Linked DNA regions of Homo sapiens. The protein of the gene in region 1 interacts with the protein of each later gene in a biochemical or structural test. Each region holds a gene or a part of one and is shown on either strand. Other genes may lie near its edges.

The links. Proteins that work in one complex are often made in the same cells at the same time.
Region 2: the proteins of SELE (region 1) and GLG1 form a complex in vitro, tested with the Homo sapiens proteins (2 studies listed by BioGRID and IntAct).
Region 3: the proteins of SELE (region 1) and FLNA form a complex in vitro, tested with the Homo sapiens proteins (one study listed by BioGRID).

Annotation. Positions count from the first base shown.
Region 1 is NC_000001.11:169,724,074-169,731,097, forward strand, and holds part of SELE (E-selectin precursor), read right to left. Parts: intron 6,545-7,024; coding exon 6,359-6,544; intron 5,601-6,358; coding exon 5,415-5,600; intron 5,302-5,414; coding exon 5,113-5,301; intron 4,174-5,112; coding exon 3,985-4,173; intron 3,855-3,984; coding exon 3,666-3,854; intron 3,453-3,665; coding exon 3,276-3,452; intron 2,734-3,275; coding exon 2,626-2,733; intron 1,856-2,625; coding exon 1,834-1,855; intron 1,729-1,833; coding exon 1,671-1,728; 3' UTR 1,656-1,670; intron 437-1,655; 3' UTR 1-436. UniProt on the Homo sapiens protein: Cell-surface glycoprotein having a role in immunoadhesion. Mediates in the adhesion of blood neutrophils in cytokine-activated endothelium through interaction with SELPLG/PSGL1. May have a role in capillary morphogenesis.
Region 2 is NC_000016.10:74,604,091-74,611,042, forward strand, and holds the start of GLG1 (Golgi apparatus protein 1 isoform 3 precursor), read right to left. Parts: upstream 3,025-6,952; 5' UTR 3,005-3,024; coding exon 2,567-3,004; intron 1-2,566. UniProt on the Homo sapiens protein: Binds fibroblast growth factor and E-selectin (cell-adhesion lectin on endothelial cells mediating the binding of neutrophils).
Region 3 is NC_000023.11:154,350,611-154,357,634, forward strand, and holds part of FLNA (filamin-A), read right to left. Parts: intron 7,014-7,024; coding exon 6,824-7,013; intron 6,665-6,823; coding exon 6,641-6,664; intron 4,463-6,640; coding exon 4,215-4,462; intron 4,102-4,214; coding exon 4,006-4,101; intron 3,874-4,005; coding exon 3,771-3,873; intron 3,682-3,770; coding exon 3,541-3,681; intron 3,434-3,540; coding exon 3,305-3,433; intron 3,118-3,304; coding exon 2,944-3,117; intron 2,848-2,943; coding exon 2,686-2,847; intron 2,595-2,685; coding exon 2,391-2,594; intron 2,315-2,390; coding exon 2,162-2,314; intron 2,066-2,161; coding exon 1,943-2,065; intron 1,838-1,942; coding exon 1,571-1,837; intron 1,412-1,570; coding exon 1,274-1,411; intron 1,087-1,273; coding exon 971-1,086; intron 432-970; coding exon 299-431; intron 1-298. UniProt on the Homo sapiens protein: Promotes orthogonal branching of actin filaments and links actin filaments to membrane glycoproteins. Anchors various transmembrane proteins to the actin cytoskeleton and serves as a scaffold for a wide range of cytoplasmic signaling proteins.

The DNA of each region.
Region 1 (7,024 bases):
TCTGGATAATTATTATTCATTCTTATGACAGCAACTGTGTAATCAGCTGTCGAAACACTGTGAAGGGCAAAAGAAAGAAAGCCACAAAATATTGTGTTTCTGTGCCAAGATTTTACAGCGAGCAAGGGAGAGTTAGAAAAGGAATTCTGAGATTTCAGAGTCTTGGTCTCTTCACCTTTGCTTGGAAGAAAATATCCTTTCCCTTCATTAGCCAACACTTTCTTGATCCTGAGAGTAGGAAAGGGAACACTGAGTCTTTTCAGTTGAAGGCCGTCCTTGCCTGCTGGACTTTGATCTATTGAAGTGGTGATGGGTGTTGCGGTTTCAGCCATAAAGGCATCTGGCATAGTAGGCAAGAAGGGCCAGAGACCCGAGGAGAGTTATCTGTCTCTGTTAACTTCAGTGTATCCCTCTAGTTCCCCAGATGCACCTGTTTCTGTAAATATAAACATGCATGTCATCAGAACACTTAATATTCTGCATACTGATCATGACAACAAAATGTACCTTCTAACACAGACACTCTCACTAGGATAGACCATGTAGGAACATCGAATTCTATTCAGTTAGGACAGTGATGATGTCTACATATTATACCTCTGTCAAAACCTACAGAATATACAACACAGCACAGAGTGAATTCTAATGTAGCCTGTGGACATTAATGAATAATAATGTATCAATATTGGCCCATCAGTTGTAACACTAATATAAGATGTTAATAACAGGGGGAATTGAAGGGGTGGTGGGGAGATATGTTGGAACTCTTTGTGCTTTCTGCTCAATTTTTCTGTAAACTTAAAACCGCACACACAAAAAAAGTTATTTTAATTTTTTAAAAAGTATTCAGAGGGACTTGACCTTTCCAAATTCTCTCAAAGCAGGTCGGAGTAGTTAAGAACACAAATTTTAGAACCAGACTGCCAGAGTTTGAATCCTGGCTACACCACTTACTAGCTTTGAGATTTCAGACAATTTACTTAACTTCTCTGTCTCATTTTCTTCATCTGTGTGATAAGAAATAAAGTAACAGGCCAGGCCCAGTGGCTCACGCCTGTAATCCCAGCACTTTGAGAGGCCAAGGCGGGTGGATCAGGAGTTCAAGATCAGCCTGGCCAACATGACGAAAAAATACAAAATCTCTACTAAAAATACAAAAATTAGCTGGGTGTGGTGGCAGGCACCTGTAATCCCAGCTACTCAGGAGGCTGAGGCAGGAGAATTGCTTGAACGCAGGAGGTGGAGGTTGCAGTGAGCCAAGATCATGCCACTGCACTCCAGTCTAGGCAACAGAATGAGACTCCATCTCAAAATTAAAAAAAAAAAAAGTAAAAAGAAAAGATAAGAAATATAGTACCAGCCCCTATCTCAGAGTTCCTAGCTTAGAAAAATTCCCAGAATATAATAAGTGCAATGTAAGGGTCAGCTATCTTCATTATTATTATCTATCATAAATGAAATTACACAATAAAGCTAGATCCGTTTCTTTCCTCTCCTTCTACAAAAAATAAAGCAACTTTCCAGAACAATACCCAGGTGATGATTTCTCCCCTGCTCCCTCCCTAAGATATTGGCAAGTTTGGAGGGTTCAAGGAGAAACAGAGCATGTAGAGAAGATACCTCTCTCATAACCATTTGTGATTTACAAGTCTTACCTGATTCTTTTGAACTTAAAGGATGTAAGAAGGCTTTTGGTAGCTTCCATCTGATTCAAGGCTTTGGCAGCTGCTGTGGAATACATGAGAACACTAGGTAAAGCACTGTCTTCCAACATGAAGAGAGAAAAATATGTGGAATGTTCAATGGCATGCTTTGTATAAGAATGCAACTTACCTGGCAGGAACAAATTTCTTTGCTGCAAAAGAAAAGACAAACAACCATTAATTCAGACTAAATGACTTTTAAGGATATATTAAATCCAGATACAATATGACTTAATTCATCAAGTGTTGCAAACTCGATGCTTCAGGGCCTCTGTAATAATCAGAGCACAAGCATGGCTCTGTGGCATCTAGGGTAAAATGCAAAGTGCACAGCCATCCAAAGGGCATAGCAGCTTCCTAATGCCAGCAAATAGCTACGGGGTCATCTTGCCCAATTCAGCTCCCAATTTTTCATGAGAAGTCCAAAGTCTTAATTTAAATGTGAGATTTCCTATTTTGTAAACGTCAGAACTTAACTCAAAAATGTTTTAAGTACTCTTAAACATGTAAGCCAAACAAACCATGAGTGTAGTCAGATGTGCTTCCATATTCCTTATGAGAGACTCTCAAATTTAAGCCTGTACTCCAAATAAATCTCCTTAGGAAGAATTTTATCCATTTTCCTTAGAGTGCTCATCATGGCAGTTCCATTGCACAATTCCGGGAGGCATCATATAATTCAACATGAATAGCACCCCCTGGAGTTGTACAATATTAGGCACGACTAACATTTTTATTTCCTGAAACACTTCCCACACTGAGTTGTACTACTAACTCTTTTCTTAATACTTCTGCTTAATTATACTGCATTTTATCCAGATTCTAATTATTGTTTAAATCAGTAAGCAAGACCATGACTTATCAATGAGAAAGAAATGTATTTTCAAAAACATTTTTGAAGTACATTCATAAACTTCCTCACCTTTCCGTAAGCATTTCCGAAGCCAGAGGAGAAATGGTGCTAATGTCAGGAGGGAGAGTCCAGCAGCAGAAAGTCCAGCTACCAAGGGAATGTTGGACTCAGTGGGAGCTAAGGAAGTAAGAGACGAAGAAAGGTCATGAGGAAGAATTGATGTTAAAGTCTCTCCGTCCTGTCCCTTTGGCCTTTTTTCTGTACATTCATTACTAGGAGCAGAAGAGCTATCTAGTTTAATACAAGAAGCAGAGATGTGGCATTACAGGCCTTTGAGATCTGCTCCAAGCCACCTTTGAAGCTATTTCCACCATTGGCAGGCAGAACTCTAACTTGCCAAGCTCGTTCACAATACCACACCACACCTTGGTTAATAAACACTGCACTTGCTTGCTCTCTTGCTCTCACTCCCTCTTGTTTTCCATTTCCCCTTTCTCCTCTCCTCTCTCTGTCTCCTTTTTCCAGTTGTCAGAATTCTACCCTTTCCATCAACATGCAACTTCTGTTTTTTCTCTATCCCCATACAACTTAATATTCACAACTTGTCAACCTGGGCGAACTTTCTGGTTTGGATATAATGAATAGTTGATTACTGTAACAAGATAGCTCCCCCTTTTTCTTTTTAATCACCAGACAACCACCATCAATCAATGCATCACCTTCACAGGTAGGTAGCAGGCCAGACCAGTGTCCTGTGGCTCCACATGTCCGAGCTGCAGAGCCATTGAGCGTCCATCCTTCAGGACAGGCGAACTTGCACACAGTGCCAAACACGGGCTCCCCACTGCAGCTCATGTTGATCTTTCCCGGAACTGCCAGGCTTGAACATTTTACCACTGCAAATGTTAGGTACACAGGCAGAGTTTCAGAAAAATCTACTGGAAAACTTCCAAAACTTGCTTAAAAGTCAACAATGAATGTAAAGTGTAAGCGCTACTTAGTTTTCAGCATGTAGGAAATTAGGACCAAACCCCTTTGGGGCAATCTAGGTTCAGAAACTTTATGAAGTATTTGACCTGTACCCTAAAAAAGTCTGCACTCAATTCTACCTTGGCAGGAAGGAACCTCTTCTGTCCATTGTCCCTGAGATGTGCACTCAAGTTGAGTTGATCCATGTAATTCAAATCCCTCCTCACAGCTGAAGGCACAAGAGGACTTGTAGGTGAATTCTCCAATAGGGGAATGAGCACACCTCACCAAACCCTTCGGGGGCTGGTGGACAGCATCGCATCTCACAGCTGGAACACACGAGAGAGCACTTTAGAAGTTTGTTTGCATCTCCAGCAATACGTTTCCCAAGGTAACCAAGTTCCCAAGCTCTTCAATAGTTCTTTTTATCTTAAAATAAAATAAAAACAAAGACTGTACCTTCACATGTGGGCTTCTCGTTGTCCCACTCCCCTGTGGGGCCACATTGGAGCCTTTTGGATCCCTTCAACACAAAACCCTGCTCACAGGAGAACTCACAGCTGGACCCATAACGGAAACTGCCAGAAGCACTAGGAAGACAATTCATGTAGCCTCGCTCGGGGTTGGACAAGGCTGTGCACTGGAAAGCTGAGACATCAAAATGATGGTCAGAAAATATTGCAGTGGAACTAGAGAGTACTTGGCGTTTGTTGAGTGAACCCAGTTCATTCAAGCAACACTTGGAGAACTGAAGATTCTTTATAATTCCCTGGACAAATGGGAAGATGGCTGTGTTTTCTTTGAATTTCAGCCCCCTCACTGATCATGGCACTAATTAAAAGACTAATTAATCAGAACATTAGTTCCTGAGCACTGTTCTTCTAACACACAAAATAAATTATGGTCCAAGGAAAGATTTCACGCAGTCTGAGGACAACATATGGGTCATGGATGTTTATAGATGGTGCCAAAAAGAAAGAAAAGAAAGCACCCCTATAAAATTTGTCTGTTTTGCAGTTTGGTTTTTGTGTTATGTTTTGCTACTGGAAATCATTCTGTGCTGGCTTTGGCTAGGACAAGGCCAGTGCCTGATAGTAAAAACTGCTTGTTTTCAATATCCTTGCTCTCACTTTAAAGTGAATTAAAATTTACTGCTTATATATGCATCAATACTATCTCTGTAGCTGACACCATGCTTGAAACAGTCTCATCACTGCTAATTATGAGCCATTTCAGAAGACAGGTGTGATGAGAGTTTTACATTCAAATCATGTTCTCATTATTCTGCTTTCCGAATTTTCTAATATGATTCCTTTAGATTAAGAATTCTGTCTATTCCATGCTAATGTCTACAAAGTTTTATCAGCACATCACAGTTAAAAAAAAACAGCAAAGAATTCATTCTTAACACATATGATCCTTTCCCTGGCCAAACATTAGTTCTTTTAAATGAATCTCAAAGATACGAGGGTTGCTCATCAAATCTGATTTCTATAGTTAAAGTGGGTATTGGTTTTTTTTTTCACTGTCCAAGTTTGAAGATGGTTGTTCTTTAAGAAAGTATAAATCGAAGGATCTCAAGCTTACCTTCACAAACTGGGATTTGCTGTGTCCACTGCCCTTGAGTGGTGCATTCAACCTGGGCTGGTCCCTGCAACATGAAGCCTTCCTCACAGGTGAAGTTGCAGGATGATTTGAAGGTGAACTCTCCAGCAGGGGAATGGCTGCACCTCACAGAGCCATTCTGAGGCTGGCGGACGGCCCTGCATGTCACAGCTGTAACAAATATACGCATTGATATTAGCACGGCCTAGAATTAGCTTGCCCATTTCCAGTATGGGTTGAGAGAAAGAATGTTCACAGTAAGTCTCCATGTGGAACAACTCTACCTTTACACGTTGGCTTCTCGTTGTCCCAATTCCCAGATGAGGTACACTGAAGGCTCTGGGCTCCCATTAGTTCAAATCCTTCTTCACAGTCAAATGTACAGGTTGTGTTCCATGGGAAGCTTCCAGGGTTTTGGAAACATTCCACGAACCCATTGGCTGGATTTGTCACAGCATCACACTCAACCACTGAGGATTTTAAAGAGCACCATGAATTTTACAGAAGAATGATCTTTTCACTTCCTATTGAGCTGGGTGCCTAACAGAGTGAGGAAGCTGCCTTCAAAGGGTAGATCCCAAAGTCCTATGTCAATTCTTAGGGACATGCACAGCCAGAATAAAAGCTTTTATTCTTTTTCATGGATATTCTATCTTTTCTGATTTCCACTTTGCCTATGCTGAGTGGTCTCTAATCTATGTTATCATTTACGTGAGGTAAAAATTTAAAAAAAATAGATTCCAGATTAGGAGTTATGACTAGTACTGACATACGTAGGCTATTCATTTATTTTAGCCCATCAGAGCCTGAAGAACTGATTTTTCTTTTTTTGGCCTCTGGTTCAGAAAGATAAAATTAAGAGAGAAAAAGAGATACTAAGACTGCTTGACTATCATGGTCTTAAGTTAGTCCCATGGCTTGGAAAAGTTAAACAGGGAAACAAGATGAGAAATCCATTGAGATTTCTAGAGCTTTATTGTTTTATGGTCTCCCTTACAAATCACCAGAGCCTCAGAAACACCCATTTCAAGCATAGAATAAAAAAACCTCTCTCAACCCAAGCAGGTACTGGGTTGGCAATATACATTGGCTGAGAGAACAAATTGTATTAAAAACAAAAACAAAAAAAAAACTTTCCCTGAAGTTTTGAAAATGTAAGTTGAATCAAAAAACAGAAGCAATGAGGGATGAGTTACAGAACGTTCTGTGCATTCTCAGAGGGATTTACCATTGCAGGCTGGAATAGGAGCACTCCATTCTCCAGAGGACATACACTGCATGGTCTCCATGCTGCTTGGCAGGTAACCCCTATCACAGCTGATAGAGCAGGAAGAATTGTAGCTGAAGTTTCCCAGTGGGTGACTGCAAACCAGGCTTCCATGCTCAGGGGATTCCAGGGCTGTACAGTTCACAACTGAAAAAGAAACCCAAATCAGTTCTGCTCATCTCTCACCTTTAACAGATAAGAACACTGGAAACTAGAACTACAGTTTGGTTTTTTTTTTTTTTAGTTTAAAAATTTATAAAATTTCTAATGGAATTTGTAAAATTGACTGTAATTCTACCCCTTTTCTTTTATTCAAGAAAATGCTGATCCATAACAACAACAACAAAAAAGCAGTGATGACAACCATAAAAAAGAAATATTGAGTGATATGGGGAGAGTAGTGTAATTGTGTTTACCTCAAAACTGTTCAAATTATATGAACAAACACAGCAAACTTAGGTACCACAACAAATTTCTTGTTACTTTTCTCACAACTGCTAAAAATACTACAGTAAGCTTCCAACCAGGATGAGAACCATTCACAAAGCTATATTTCAAATTTAAGTACTAGAATACATTACAAATTTTAAAACCCTAATGCTGCACTGTCTACTATAGTAGCCACTA
Region 2 (6,952 bases), on another chromosome or scaffold:
GGCTTCAGTGAACTCTCAAACCCAGAAGACTGAGGCTGCAGTGAGCTATGACTGCACCACTGCACTCCAGCCTGGATGACAGAGCGAGACCCTGTCTCCATAATAAAAAATTTTTTTTCAGAAAGAAAAGTTCCATAAGGTTCCAAAAAGCAAAAGTTAAGTTTGACATATGCCAAGTACTACAGTGAATCCACATGAATGAACTGATATGTAGGCACTGTACTAGGTATCACAAGTATTTTAGAGAAGACAAGAATTCGGAAGGGTGTGCACAGATGATATGGAAATACGACACCATTTTATACGGTATAAGGTACTTGAGCGTCCTTGGATTTCAATATCTGCAGGAGGCCTGGAACCATCCTCCAGTGATACCAAGGAACAACTGTACTCATATGCTCTGCCTTTTCATAATTCCAATAATGGGTACGGATAGGAAAATGTTCCCTGCATTTGCATGCAAAGGGACAGAAAAGTACATATATCTATTTCACTATCAAATAGTTCTACTTACTGAACAGCAAATACAAAACATATTCTATACATGTTTCTTCAAATGTGCCTAACTAGTTTACTTCTTTAAGTTATGCTCTTTCAAACACATAGATCAGATTTAATTAACTCCCAGACTAAGCAGAATGAAATTTCCTTTCGCTGTCTTTAAAGAAAAAGAAAATAGGGTGGGGGTGGTGGCTCACACCACTAATCTCAGCACTTTGGGAGCCCGAGGCTGGCAGATCACAAGGTCAGGAGATCGAGACCATCCTGGCCAACATGGTGAAACCCTGTCTCTACTAAAAATACAAAAATTAGCTGGGCGTGGTGGCGCTCGCCTGTAGTCCCAGGTACTCAGGTGGCTGAGGCAGAATTGCTTAAAGCCGGGAGGTGGAGGTTGCAGTGAGCCAAGTTCAAGCCACTGCACTCCAGCCTGGCGACAGAGTGAGACTCCATCTCAAAAAAAAGAAAAGAAGTTTAAAAATAACTCCACCTCCTGAAGAATACACATAGGTGTTCACAGTACTCTTCCTTCATTATTTCTGTATGTAAAAACTGGAGGAAAAAACATTAAATTGGAAATTTGGTCCCTCCACCTCCCCCCAACCCCCCAAAACCCCCATTTCCAATTTATATGACGCCTTTCCTCCTCTGGAGCATAAAACTGCCTCCTTTAAGTGGAGGTTTCCAAATGTCCGGAATACACATGAAGGATATATACACTCCTTGAATAGGCCACTTTTTGCCACTTTCCCTAATAATGTGCTGTTTCTACCACAAACTACTACTAATTGTTTGGTCACCAGTATTAGGATCCTAGTTTGATGAAACGACATCTATTATGTGTCCTCAAAGAGCGAAAAGAAAATTCCAAAAAGTTCGACAGAGTTAGGAATATTAGCTGTATCTACCAGAGGACTATCCCTCTAGTCGTTAAGCTGAAGATGAGAAGTCAGGTAAGGCCTCACATTTCTAGGGGCTCTGGAAACTTCCTTTCTTTCTGTCTCCTGCTTATGTATGTCTTTTCCTCTATCTGAATTGCTTTTGTATAGAATACTAGAACACGAGATGAAGGGGGGAAATGCCAAGAGAAGCAAATTTCTACAAGCAAGTGGTCTTGCTATAGCTTGAACGCCTTAAACAAATCTGATATTTAAAAAAAAAACCAAAAACAGTATCAAGTGGTAGCTTCATTCTATTTGTCCACCTTTAGGGCTAATTTTATATACCTACACCTCTGGAAAAAGTTACTACTGTCAGATTTGCTCCCAAACTTTGAGAATTGTCATTATGGTCTGCAGCATTAAACCTAGATTATAAATTATCAATGTCACTTGATTATAAATTATCAATGTCACTCAACTGAATCACACCAAGCAACGACAAATGTAGATTTCATTAAGAGATACTGTTAAAATCACATTCAGACCTCAGAAAGGCAAGATCCCATAACCCAGTCACAAACACAGCTTCAAACGCTTCCCCAACTTTTCAAGCTTTGGGGCGCCAAGTCACTGGGAGTTAACAGCTTAAACATGGGGTTCAATACAACTGACCAAAGGAAGTGAAGAAAACAAAGCATACATTAATTTCAGCACCAAAAATATGGATTTGCGAATTACATCTACTGCTAATAAACAGATCATTCTTTACAGCCTAAGTACGCCAGGCATTTTTTTATGTTTAAATGGCTTGCCACAAATTGTCCTAGTCGAAACTGATGGCAAAATCCTAAACTGATCTTCGGCGAGGAGACACTCTGCATAGAGCATCACACAAAAGACAGGAGCGAACAGACACGCTCTGGGCCTCGGCGGATTGCGGCCAGGAGCCCAGGTTTTCGTCCCAGACCCCGGCAACAGGGAGGGAAATAAGGGCGGGGGAAAGAAGGAGTGGGAGTGGTATCCTTTTCCCTGAAAGCGCCTGGGAGTGAGGAGCAAAGAGGGAAGGAGCGAGTGCAGCACAGAGGAAGCAAGGAAAGCAGCCGACCGGCGTCAGCGGCTTCCAAGGCCGGCAACACCCTCGGGCCCGCACCAGGCCTGGCCCTCCCGGCTTCGTCCCACCTCCTCACCTCCCTCACATCCTGCAGGCACTCGAGCACCGCCAGGTTGTTGCTCCAGGTGTGCTTAGGGCACACGCGGGTCACGTCCTCCCTGCAGGACTCTTCCTCCGCCAGCTTCCAGCCCCCACCAGCCCCCGCTCCTCCCCGCCGGGCCGGAGGCCCACCCGCCGGGAAAGGCGGCTGCGGCGGCTGAGGCTGCTGTTGCTGTTGCTGCTGCTGCTGTTGCTGCTGAAGCTGCGATGACTGAGGCAGCTGGGGCAGCTGCTGACCCGCCGGGCCGCCGCCTCCGGCCTGCCCTACGAAGGACACAAAGTTGGCCCCGGGACCCTGGCCCTGGCTGTGGACGCCCTGGCCGGGGAGTTTCTCGGCCCCGGCCGCGAATAGCAGCAGCAGATGCAGCGCCGCCGACAAGCGGAACATCCTCCGTACACGTCCACACGCCGCCATCTTGAGTCCGCGGCGAGCTCGACGCACTCGCCGGCGCCGCGTATTTAAATGAGGGGGTGGAGACGCTGGGCGTGGCAGCGTGGCCCTGCCGAGCCCCGCCCCGCCGGCGCCGACCCGCGAACCCAGAGTGGGGCGAAGGAGGAGGCCGTGCTGGAAACCGCACACACCCTGGACCGGCGGGCGGGAGAGCGGCGCTCCTTACCCGGGGGGGTTGCTGGGGTTTCTTAAAAAGCCCGGGCAGGGCGGCCTACTCTAATTCCATTTGCTGTCACAAAAAAAAAAATCAAGGGAATTGGGGTTGCCACAACCAAAATGGCCGGTAGAATATGTCGCCGGTTCAATGACTTGGAAAACAAAAACTTTATATGTAGAGGTGAACTTTGCACAACCAGGTGTATTACGGAATCGGAAAGCCTCTCCTTGTATCGCTCCCTCCTTCCTTCCTTCCTTCCATCTGCCTCAGAAGTCTTTCTTAGCCAAAGAGAGAGACAGCATTGAATAGGGTTAAGAGCATAAGTTCTGGGGTAAGAAAAAAAATTAAGGTTATAATCCTTGCTCTGGCAGGGTACGCAAGAGCTCAAATGTAAAGTACCATTGGCAAGATTCGAAATAATAATTTAAGTGCCTGGCCCACAACACTGAACTCAAAAAGTCACAGCCAGTATTGTTAATAAACTGGGAAGCCGTTTATGCATGAATCCTGATTTTAAGCCAGCATTTAGATTCATGTTTAAAGGATGAAAAAATAATAATAAAACACATCTTTGAGGACTCGGGTTAAGTCTGTGTGTCGGTAACTGTTCTCATTGACCTGCATGCAACACCGCAGGCACCCCACACTAGCATCCCCTCCCTGTCCTTAGGAGAGAGGATATGTTCCCAAAGCCTCTTCACATCCGCTGTGTAATCTGAGCCATGCATCAGGCCTGCGTTAGGTTCTCATTTAACTGAAGAATGGCACAGAGATGTTAACAGTTCTGCGTGGAGGGATTAAATGAGCTGCCCAAGAGGAACTCTGCCATCCTGTAGACAGCTAGGCTAGCCACCAGAATCCCTGGGGCTTCCCACCACCCTGGCGCACTTTCATCCCACTCTGTCCATGCACATGTTGGGGAATGAGGGCAGTTTGGGTTGTGTAATCTCCACTGGTCATTGTGTCCAAAAATGCGAATTACATCTACTGTAGTAAACAGACAGCTTCTGCTGTCCTGACCCGCAAATGAGCAGTCAAGACCAAGTTAGACATAACTAGAACCTGAAAAGTCAGGAGCTCAGGGAACCCAAAAGGAGCTCCTGAGACTGAAGATATTCTGTGAGTACAAATTACCCACTGTGGCTGACCCCAGGCCTCTATCATGGGGAATGAGAGCTTGTTGGCATCTCCACCAACGGTCACCTTTGCTACTGTCATAAAATGATCATGAGGCTGCTGCTAACCTTGAGCACTGACTAAGGCAGCCCCATGTTTATTAGCAAACACATGGCATAGGTAAGTTTCAGTCAGGCAGGCTGGACACATCACCAGAAGTCCTTGAGATGTCACTAGCGTATGTTAATTTTTTTTTTTTTTTTTTGAGACGGAATCTCACTCTGTTGCCCAGGCTGGAGTGCAGTGGCGTGATCTCTGCTCGGAGCTGCCACCTCCACCTCCTGGGTTCAAGCAGTTCTCCTGCCTCAGCCTCCGAGTGGCTGGGATTACAGGCATGTGCCACCACACCCAGCTAATTTTTGTATTTTTAGTAGCGACGGGGTTTTGCCATGTTGGCCAGGCTGGTCTCGAACCCCAAACCTCAGGCGATCTGCCCACCTCAGCCTCCCAAAGTGCTAGGATTACAGGCGTGAGGTACTGCGCCTGGCCTCCATTAATTTTCAATGCTGAGTCTGCATGTGTTCAGACAAGTGGGAGATTATTTTAAGCCAGTTTAACTAGAAATTGACAATCCTAGATAAGCCATCAGTTACTTATCTTTCAGCCTGAACTGAGGAAACCACAGCCACAGATTGCCTCCAGAGATAGGGAGGAGTACACATGGCTATCTTGAAATCTCAGTCACCAAGAAGCAAGAAACAGATAAATCTGGGAACCTGGCCAGCTCAGGCTGTCAGGCAAGCGTAGACCTTACGGAAGCCACGAGCCCCCAAACCCACGGAAAGACAGTTGCCTTAACTCAGGTCTTCTGGTCTCATTGCCTTTTCAATATAACATATACTATCTCTATCAGAAACGGGGAATTCTTTTTTCTTTTTTTTTTGAGAGGAGTCACACTGTCGCCAGGCTGAAGTGCAGTGGCGCGATCTCGGCTCACTGCAACCTCTGCCTCCCGGATTCAAGCAATTCTCTTGCCTCAGCCTCCCAAGTAGATGGGACTACAAGTGTGCGCCACCATGCCCAGCTAATTTTTGTATTTTTAGAGACGGGATTTCACCATGTTGGCCAGGAGAGTCTCAATCTCTTGACCTTATGATCCATCCTCCTCGGCCTCCCAAAGTGCTAGGATTACAGGCATGAGCCACTGTGCCCAGCCAAGAAACGGGGAGTTCTTTTTACCCTTTATTGTATCCTTTGTTTCCTGATCCTCACTTTCTTAATTTATTCATCAAGCAGGTATCTGTTGAACATTTTCTTTTTTTTTTTTTTTGAGACGGAGTCTTGCTCTGCCACCCAGGCTGGAGTGCAGTGTTGTGATCTCAGCTCACTGCAACCTCCGCCTCCTGGGTCCAAGCGATTCTCCTGCTGTAGCCTCCCAAGTAGCTGGTATTACAGGCGTGCACCACCACAACCGGCTAGTTTTTGTACTTTTAGTAGAGACGGGGTTTCACCATGTTGGCCATGCTGATCTTGAATTCCTGACCTCAAGGGATCCACCTACCTTGGCCTCCCAAAGTGTTGGGATTACAGGGATAAGCCACCGGGCCCAGCCATGAGCATTTTCCTTGTTTGTTTTCAGACGGGGTCTCCCTCTGTCACCCAGGCTAGAGTGCAGTGGCATGATAATTGTGGCTCACTGCAGCCCCAACCTCCTGGGCTCAAGCAGTCTTCCCGCCTCAGCCTCCTAAGTAGCTGGGACTACCGGTGTGTGCCACCACGCCCAGCTAATTATTTTTTTTTTGTAATTTTAGTATTTTTTTTTGTTTTTGAGACAGGGTCTTGTTCTGTCACCCAGACTACAATATAATGGCATGATCATGTTCACTGCATCCTCAGCCTCCCAAGCTCAAGTGATCCTTCCACCTCAGCTTCCCAAAGTGCTGGGATTACAGGTGTCAGCCCTGCACCTGGGCTGTTGAGAATTTGTTCTTTTATTATTATTATTATTATTATTATTATTATTATTATTATTATTATTTGAGATGGAGTGTTTCACTCTTGTTGCCCAGGCTGCTGTGCAATGGCATGATCTCAGCTCTGCAACCTCTGCCTCCCGGGTTCAAGTGATTCTCCTGCCTCAGCCTCCCCAAGTAACTAGGATTACAGGCGCCTGCCACCACGCCCAGCTAGTTTTTGTATTTTTAGTAGAGAGAGATTTCACCATGTTGACCAGGCTAGTCTCGAACTCCTGACTTCAGGTGATTGCCTGCCTCGGCCTCCCAAGTGCAACCATGAAAAGAGGACTCTAAGTGTTCCAAAATCAGACATTAATAACTAGTTCAAGATTCTAAGGAGGTGGGAATAAGCATTCAAAATGAAGGCCTGCTAGGCATGGTGGCTCACACCTACCTGTAATCCCAGCACTTTGGGAGGCCGAGGCGGGTGGATCACCTGAGGTCAGGCCTTTACTAAAAATACAAAAATTGGCTGGGCATAATGGTGCAACCTATAGTCCCAGTTACTCAGGAGGCTTACGCGGGAAGATCACTTGAAAGCGGCAAGTGGAGGTTGCAGTGAGCTGAGATTATGCCACTGCACTCCAGCCTGGGTGACAGAGTGAGATCCTGTCTCAGAAAAAT
Region 3 (7,024 bases), on another chromosome or scaffold:
CCTGTGCACAAGTACCATGGCCGTGGCTGAAGGGCCGGGCAGCACTGAGGCTGGACTTTGAGTCTTTCCCTGTGGAGATGGCATGGTACTGCAGGGTAGAAGGCCTTCCTAATAGCTGTGGGTGGCGAGCCACATCCCCAGCGGCTTGGGTCACCAATTGGGAAAGGGTTGCCTGGCTTAGGGGGCCCAGGAGTTGGGGCCCCGTCTTGGCTGCTTACAGAAGCGGTACCTTCCTTTTGTACTCTCAGCCTGCTTCCAGCCAGCAGGGCAGGGCGGCCGGGCAGGGACAGGGCCTCACCTTGGTCAATTTCTGTGACATAGCACTCCTCCAGGGCTCCTGAGGGGCTGTGCACCTTGGCATCGATCGCCCCCTTGGCCCCGTTCAGGCTGACTGCAAAAGAGGCTGGCTGGTTGACCTTTAGCCCTGACTCCTGGAAGCACAGCAGACATGGTTAGATGGGGGTGCTTGAGCCAGGGCAAGGGAGGACGGAAAGGCCCCAGGAGCAAGAGGCCCGCGGGTCGCACTTACCCATCTGGCGTCCAACTTGGTTTAAAGAGGGAGAGCCACTGATTTGCAAGGGGCAGCAAGCCACAGGCGCACATCCCCGCCCCTGCCCCCACACTCTGCCGTCGCACACACCCAGGTGGCAGGAAGGGAGGGCTGCCCCACCCTGTGGGCAGCACCCAGCCTTGGCAGGCTGTCCCTCTTTAAACCGCAGCCCTGGTGCTCAAGGGGCACAGGCTTCTGTTCAAAGCCTTTAGACCTGAGACACGAGAAAAACTCCACGTGGTGGGCAGGATATTTCCTGCCGACCCCAAGCGTGGGCTGCACCCGGCCAGAGCAGAGGCCTGGAACCCAGAGCTGGGCCAGGGGGGTCACTGAACACAGGGCCAAGGCCTGGTCTCTGCGGTGGCTCTGGTCTGTCCGGGCCCAGGAGCCCCAGGTGGGCGGTTTCTCTCGGTGCCTCACCTGAAGGCTAGAAACAGTGAGGCGGCGGGCGTCGCCAGACGGAGAAGCCACAGGCACCACGAAGGGGCTGTCGGGAATGTGTTCCTCGTTGAACTTGACTGAGACTTCGTAGTCACCTGGGCAGGGAAAGAGTGTAAGACCGGCTCATCAGCCTTTGGGCCTCCCACCTCCCACGAACAGCCTGGGTGGCCCTGTGACCTCAAAGTGAAGAGTGAGTGCCAGGCAGGGCTATCTGTGCCAGCCCTGGGTCCAATACCCACACTCAGGCCCCACCTCCTCCAACCCCAGCCGGGTTCCCAGTACCTGGCTCCTGGACCACATAAGCCACACCACAGGAGCCGTCCTTGCGGTCCTCAAAAGAGATCTCAGCCTTGCTGGGGCCCTCGACAGCAATGGCCAGGCCTCCAGCACCAGCTTCCCGGGTCCAGATACTGAATTCGGCTGTGGGAGAACAGTTTGTCCTCACTGAAGGCTGCTTCACCAGCCTCGGCCCCCTCCAGGCATAGCCAAGGTAGACATGCCTGCCGGCTCTTTCCTCCACCCCCAACCCCACCCTGGCCAACGCAGGAGAGCGAGCACTCGGGGTGTGAGCAGGCCTACCTGGCACTCCAGCTTCAGCTCTCTCCAGGCCAGGGCCCCCAGCTCGGACCTTGTGGGCTCCCCCTTCCCCTAGGGGCCCCACGGTGAACTGGAAGGGGCTCCCAGGCACGTGCTGGCCCTTGTACTTCACGCTGACTGTGTGTGTGCCCATCTCAGCGGGAACAAAGCGGATGCAGTAGGTGTGGTTCTCCCCTTCCACGATCTCGGCCTCATGGGTCTTGCCCGATGGGCTGGTCACCTGGGCTGTCATATCCTGGATGCTAATTTCTGCAGGGTGGGGATGGGCTAGTGAGCAGCAGCCCTGGGCTCCACCCCTCCTCTTGGGGCTGCTTGAGCCCCAGGACCCCTCCCCAGGCTTCCCACAGCCCCTACCAGGGATTTTCAGGCTGAGGTCACAATGACTACCAACGTTGGCCACTGAAGGAGCCCGACGCCTGCGGGTGATGCTCTCTTTCACCCGGCCCTCGCCTGTCACCTTCACAGAGAAGGGGCTGCCTGCAGGAAGAAAGCACGGCCCACGCCCCTCCAGTCACATACTGCCTGTGGGCCCTGGTGTAGTGAGGGGGGCTGCCGAGGCACTGCTGCACTCACCAGGCACGTGCTGGTCGGCAAACTTGATGTTGATGATGTAGTTGCCTGGCTCTGTGGGGCAGTAGGTGACCCTGCACGTCCCGTCCTCCAGGTCCTCTGTGTTGATGTCCACCTTGCTGGGGCCCTCAATGGACAGGCTGAGCCCACCATAGCCTAGGGGATGGATACCCCTGAGCCTCGGTGCTATGCACAGTGCTCCCGCCCCAGCTGGTGGGCAGCCACTGCCTACCTGCATCGCGGGTATCAATGATAAACTCTGCAGGCTCAAAGGTGTGGCCTTCGTGAAGGCCCTGACCAGAGACCCGAACACGACTGGCATCCCCAATTTCCGACTGGCTGATCACCACCGGGATGGGGCTGCTGGCCACGTGCTGGCCATTTTTCTTCACATGCACCAGGTGCTCCCCCGTCTCCTTGGGCACGAATGAAATCCCTGGACACAGGGCATGGCTGTCAGTCAGGGAGGGCATGGCTCCCCACAGGCTGCCTCCTTTCTGAACCCCCTGGACCCTTCAGCCGCTTACCCACGTGGCCATTACGCAGCCGCTTCAGCAAACAGGGCTCCTCCCGGCCCGAGGGCGGGACCACAGTGGCCGTCAGCAGGCTGAGATCCGTCTCTGAGATGTTGATGGGGATGTCGGCAGCAGAGCCGACCTTTAGGTGGGACATACGCATGGAGTCGTCACCTGGTGGGGACAGGCCAGCCATCAGTGTGCGTCCAGCCATGGGAGACCATGCCCACCCTGCCACCCGTTTCTGTCACTGCTCCCAGTGCCACCCACCTGTGACCCGAGCAGTGAAGGGGCTGCCTGGGACGTGCTGTTCATTGTACTTGACTAGAATGCTGTAGTCCCCCGGCAGCACAGGCAGGTAGGACACGCTGCATGTCCCATCCTGGTTGTCAGTGCAGCTGATTTCTGCTTTGGACGGGCCCTCAATGGCCAGAGACAGGCCCCCTGGAGAGAGCCGTGGGTGAGCATGGGAACTATGCTGGGGACACTCCAGTTGGCCTGCACTGAGGAGCTCCGATGGCCAGGGCAGCAGGGCAGGGAGCCCCATTCAGGAGTATCTCCTGAGTCCAGCCCTTACCCCGGTGAGGGCATCCCGGGCACAGAGCAGGTCAAGACCAGAGCTATTGCTCACCCTCTCCTGCATCCTTGGTGTTGACGGTGAAGGTGGCAGGCTTGTTCACTACTCCATGGGTGAGGCCAGGCCCATAGGCAGTGACATGGCCACAGTTGACGTAATCCACATAGAACTGCAAGGGGCTTCCTGAGGCAGGAAGAAGGGCCTTGTGGAATGGCAGCCTCGTGTGTCCCCCAGCCCCATCTCTCTGTGAGGTGGTGGCGGTGGAGTGGGCAGAGGCAGGGCAGGCCCACCTGGGATGTGCATGTTGTCATAGCGGATGTCCATCTCGTGCAGGCCAGCCTCGCTGGGTGCATACCGCACGGTCACGGTGCCGTCTTTGTTGTCAGTGATGGTGGGCTGCGCCACCTTGCCTGAGGGCATCCGAACCTCCCCTGTGGGGCAGTGGGGCTGAGGTCAGGGCAGCTCATTGGCACAGTCTGGCCTCCTTGGCTCCCGAGCTCCTTCCCAAGTCCCCACTCACCTGTGATCTCGCCCTTCTTGATGGTGAAGGGGATGACAAGGTCAAAGGGCCTCAGGCTGGTCACATCCAGCCCATTGACACCCACCAGGGGCCTCTCCGGGGCCTGCAGTGGAGACACAGGGCATGGGTGAGGGACAGTGGGAGGATCTGGGGTCCCTCCTCACACATGGTAAACTAGGGGCTCACAGAACACCCAGCTGGCTAGCCCCAGTGTCCCTAGCTGGCCAGGCCGTACCCAAGTCTGCTGGCCGCCCTGGGCGTAGGTGTACTGTGGGGCCAGCTGCTGAGACCGTAGAGGGGGCTGCACCGAGGGCTGGTCCCCAGCCAGAGCCTGCAGGGCAAAGCAGAGAGCTGCTGGAGAGTCTGTTGTCACAGAGGGGCCCCAGGGGAACAGGCCGGGACCTGCCAGACACCCCTGCTGACCTACCCCCCACCCCTCCTCACCGTCACTTGGAAGGGGCTGTTGGGCACGTGCTCGCCACCAAAGCGCACACAGATGACGTATTTGCCCGGCTGGGGGGCCGTGTAGAAGATGTCGAAAGTGCCGTCCTCATTCTCCACCACGTCCACATCCACCTCTGAGCCATCAGGCGTGCACACGGTGCACGTCACTTTGCCTTTGCCTGCCGCCTTAGTGTCCACAGTGATCACCGTCTCCTCCCCAATCTGAATGGTGGGGCCGATGCCAGCACCTGGTGGGGCAGGGTGGGTCCCCAAAGGGGGGCCAGCGTGTGAGCTCGGGTTCAGGTTGTTCCCGTCCGCCTGCCGCCCACACAGGCCTCTCATTGCCACCACCAAGCACAGCCAGGCCGCCAGGCCTCCTGCCCCGCCCTGCCCCTCCAAGCTGGGATGGCGAGTGGTTTCTCAGAAGGCAGGAAGGTTTCTCCTGACCACCTCAAGTGCCCATGTGGGAGAGGCCCGACAGTAGCACCCAGGTGCCTGGGAGGAAAAGGAAGGGCCCACTCCAGCCTAAGTGTTGACAGCCACTCCCTTGCCTACTCAGCCTCGTCCAGCACCATGGCCCACACTGCTGAACGCCAGCATCTGGCTGGGCACACGGCTGCCTGCGCCCTTCTGGCCTGGCCCCGGCCCCCATTGCTGTGTGTGGACGCGGTGAGGCGGAGTCCTGCTGCAGCGTGGGGGGATGTGACACTTGCCTCCCCACCCCCCAGGCCTGATGGTGAAACCGGAGTTTCCTGACAACTGAGAAGGCTCGCGGTGAAAAGCAGCCCGGTGCAGACAGGAGTGGGAGCGGGGAAGCGGGAGGCAGCGGGGTTAGCACCCGAGTAGCGCAGCGCAGCAGGCTTGGCAGAGCGGGGATAGCACCCAGGGAGACAGGGAACAGGAGGCCCAAGCTACAGCCACCACTGCTGGGTTGCGAGGGCAGAGCAGCTGAGCAGGCTCCAGGGCCCCAGAGTGCCCGAGGAAAGGGGAGAGACAGTGACGTTATGATCTGGGTCTCCGCCGTGGAGGCTTGGGGGGCTGTGGGCTGTGAGGCCTGGCAGTGAGAGTGCCCCCTGCAGCCTGGCCTCCTGCCAGGGAAGCAGCCAGGAGCACGAAACCTACTTGAAGGCCAAGCTCGAGGGGCCCTGCCACCAAGTCCCACTATCGGCCGAGGGCTCCTGCTGCACTAGGCTCCATGCTGGCCTGCCGCGGCCAGGCAGCTCTCCCAGGCTCCAGACCTGGCTGCCGGCTGCCCACGCTGCCCTGGGAGGCTTCACTCATGTGCACCCCATGCCATCTAGTTAGTGGCTTGGGCCCCAACCTCACAGGTACCCGACTGCCCCCACTTTCCCTGCCCGGCTCCCAGCCAACCGCAGGTCTCAGCCACTCCATCCTCAAAGTATGCCTCCTAATTTGGCTCTCACTGAAGCCCCGTGGCCGTCAAGCTTGCCAGAGAGCAACTTCAGCGCCCCCTTCCCCACCCCGGGCTCCCTGTCTCCATTCTGCAAACAGTAGCCAGGGAAACTGAGGTTACTGAGTCTTGCTCCCACCCTCAAAGCCCCCAAGGCCCTGCAATCAGTACTCCCCAGCCTCCCCCGCCCTGCGCACACACGCCTGTCACACACACATCGGATCCTACGGCCTGCTCTATAAAGCCATCTCGCTCCTGCCGCAAAACTCTAGCCACCCTCTCACCCTTTCCTTAGCCACCTCGCCCAAGTGCCAGGCCTGTAGCCTCTCATCAGCATCCCTGGGTGTCCCTGGCTGGGGCAGGTGACCCTCCATGCCTGTTGGGGAATGTCTGAATAACGTCACTGCTGGGGGATAGGGGAAGGGGGAAGGAGGGAGACGGGCCACAGAATGCACTTTGGGGCTCTGAGGCTGGGCCGGGCCCCGCCATGCTGGCCGCCCAAGCAGTCGACACTGGCGCTACTGCACTACCAGCCAGCCCCACCCGCTCATGCACCTCCCCCGGCCCGGGACGCAGAGGCCCCTGGAAGGTGGGGATGGGGGTCTGTGGATCTGGCCAGGGCTGGGGCTCCCATTGAGTTGGGGAGACCCCTTGTTCCCTCAGCCCACGCAGGAGCCCTTGTGCCTCCCTGGGTGCCAAGATCCCGAGACCCCAAAGTCCCCAGTGGGGTGCCTCTCAGGATGCACCTCACCCCAAAGCTCTCAGCTGCAACCCGAGTTCTCAGATGGGGAAATAAAGGCCCAGAGAGGGGAAGAGCTGGAGCGGTCATGCTCAGCTCCGGAAGCCTCCCTGGGCCCTCGCCCTCCAGCCCACGGCCTCATCTTCTGCACCCCACCCAACTCTGTCCCTGCCTAGAGCTGCAGCTGGAACTGTCCTGGGAATCGGCCCCAAGAGGAAAGGAAGCTGCCCCTCTGGGCAGGAGGGGCATTGGGAGTGGCCCCAGCAAGCAGCTTACCTAGCCCGTGACCTCCGATTGACACTGAGGTGAGAGGGCAGAGAGCAAGGAGAAAGGTCAGGTGAGTCACTCAAGGGGGCGGCCCCCACTCCCACACGCCGCCCCAAGCAGCGAGCCCTTGCACACAGGCACAACCCAAGCCCCGTGCCGAGCGCCGCAGCGGCCAACAGCGGGCGGGCTCACCTGTGACAGTGCACTTGCTGGCGTCCCCGGTGGGCACGGCACGCACGCGGTACGGGGAGAAGGGGATCTCGTCACCACCGTACTTGATGAGGATGGTGTAGCGACCTGTCACGTCTGGCACGTAGGCCACTGTATACGTGCCGTCATGGTTGTCTTGGATGTGTGTCTTCTTCGGCTTGCCTTCGGGATCCTGTGTGGCAG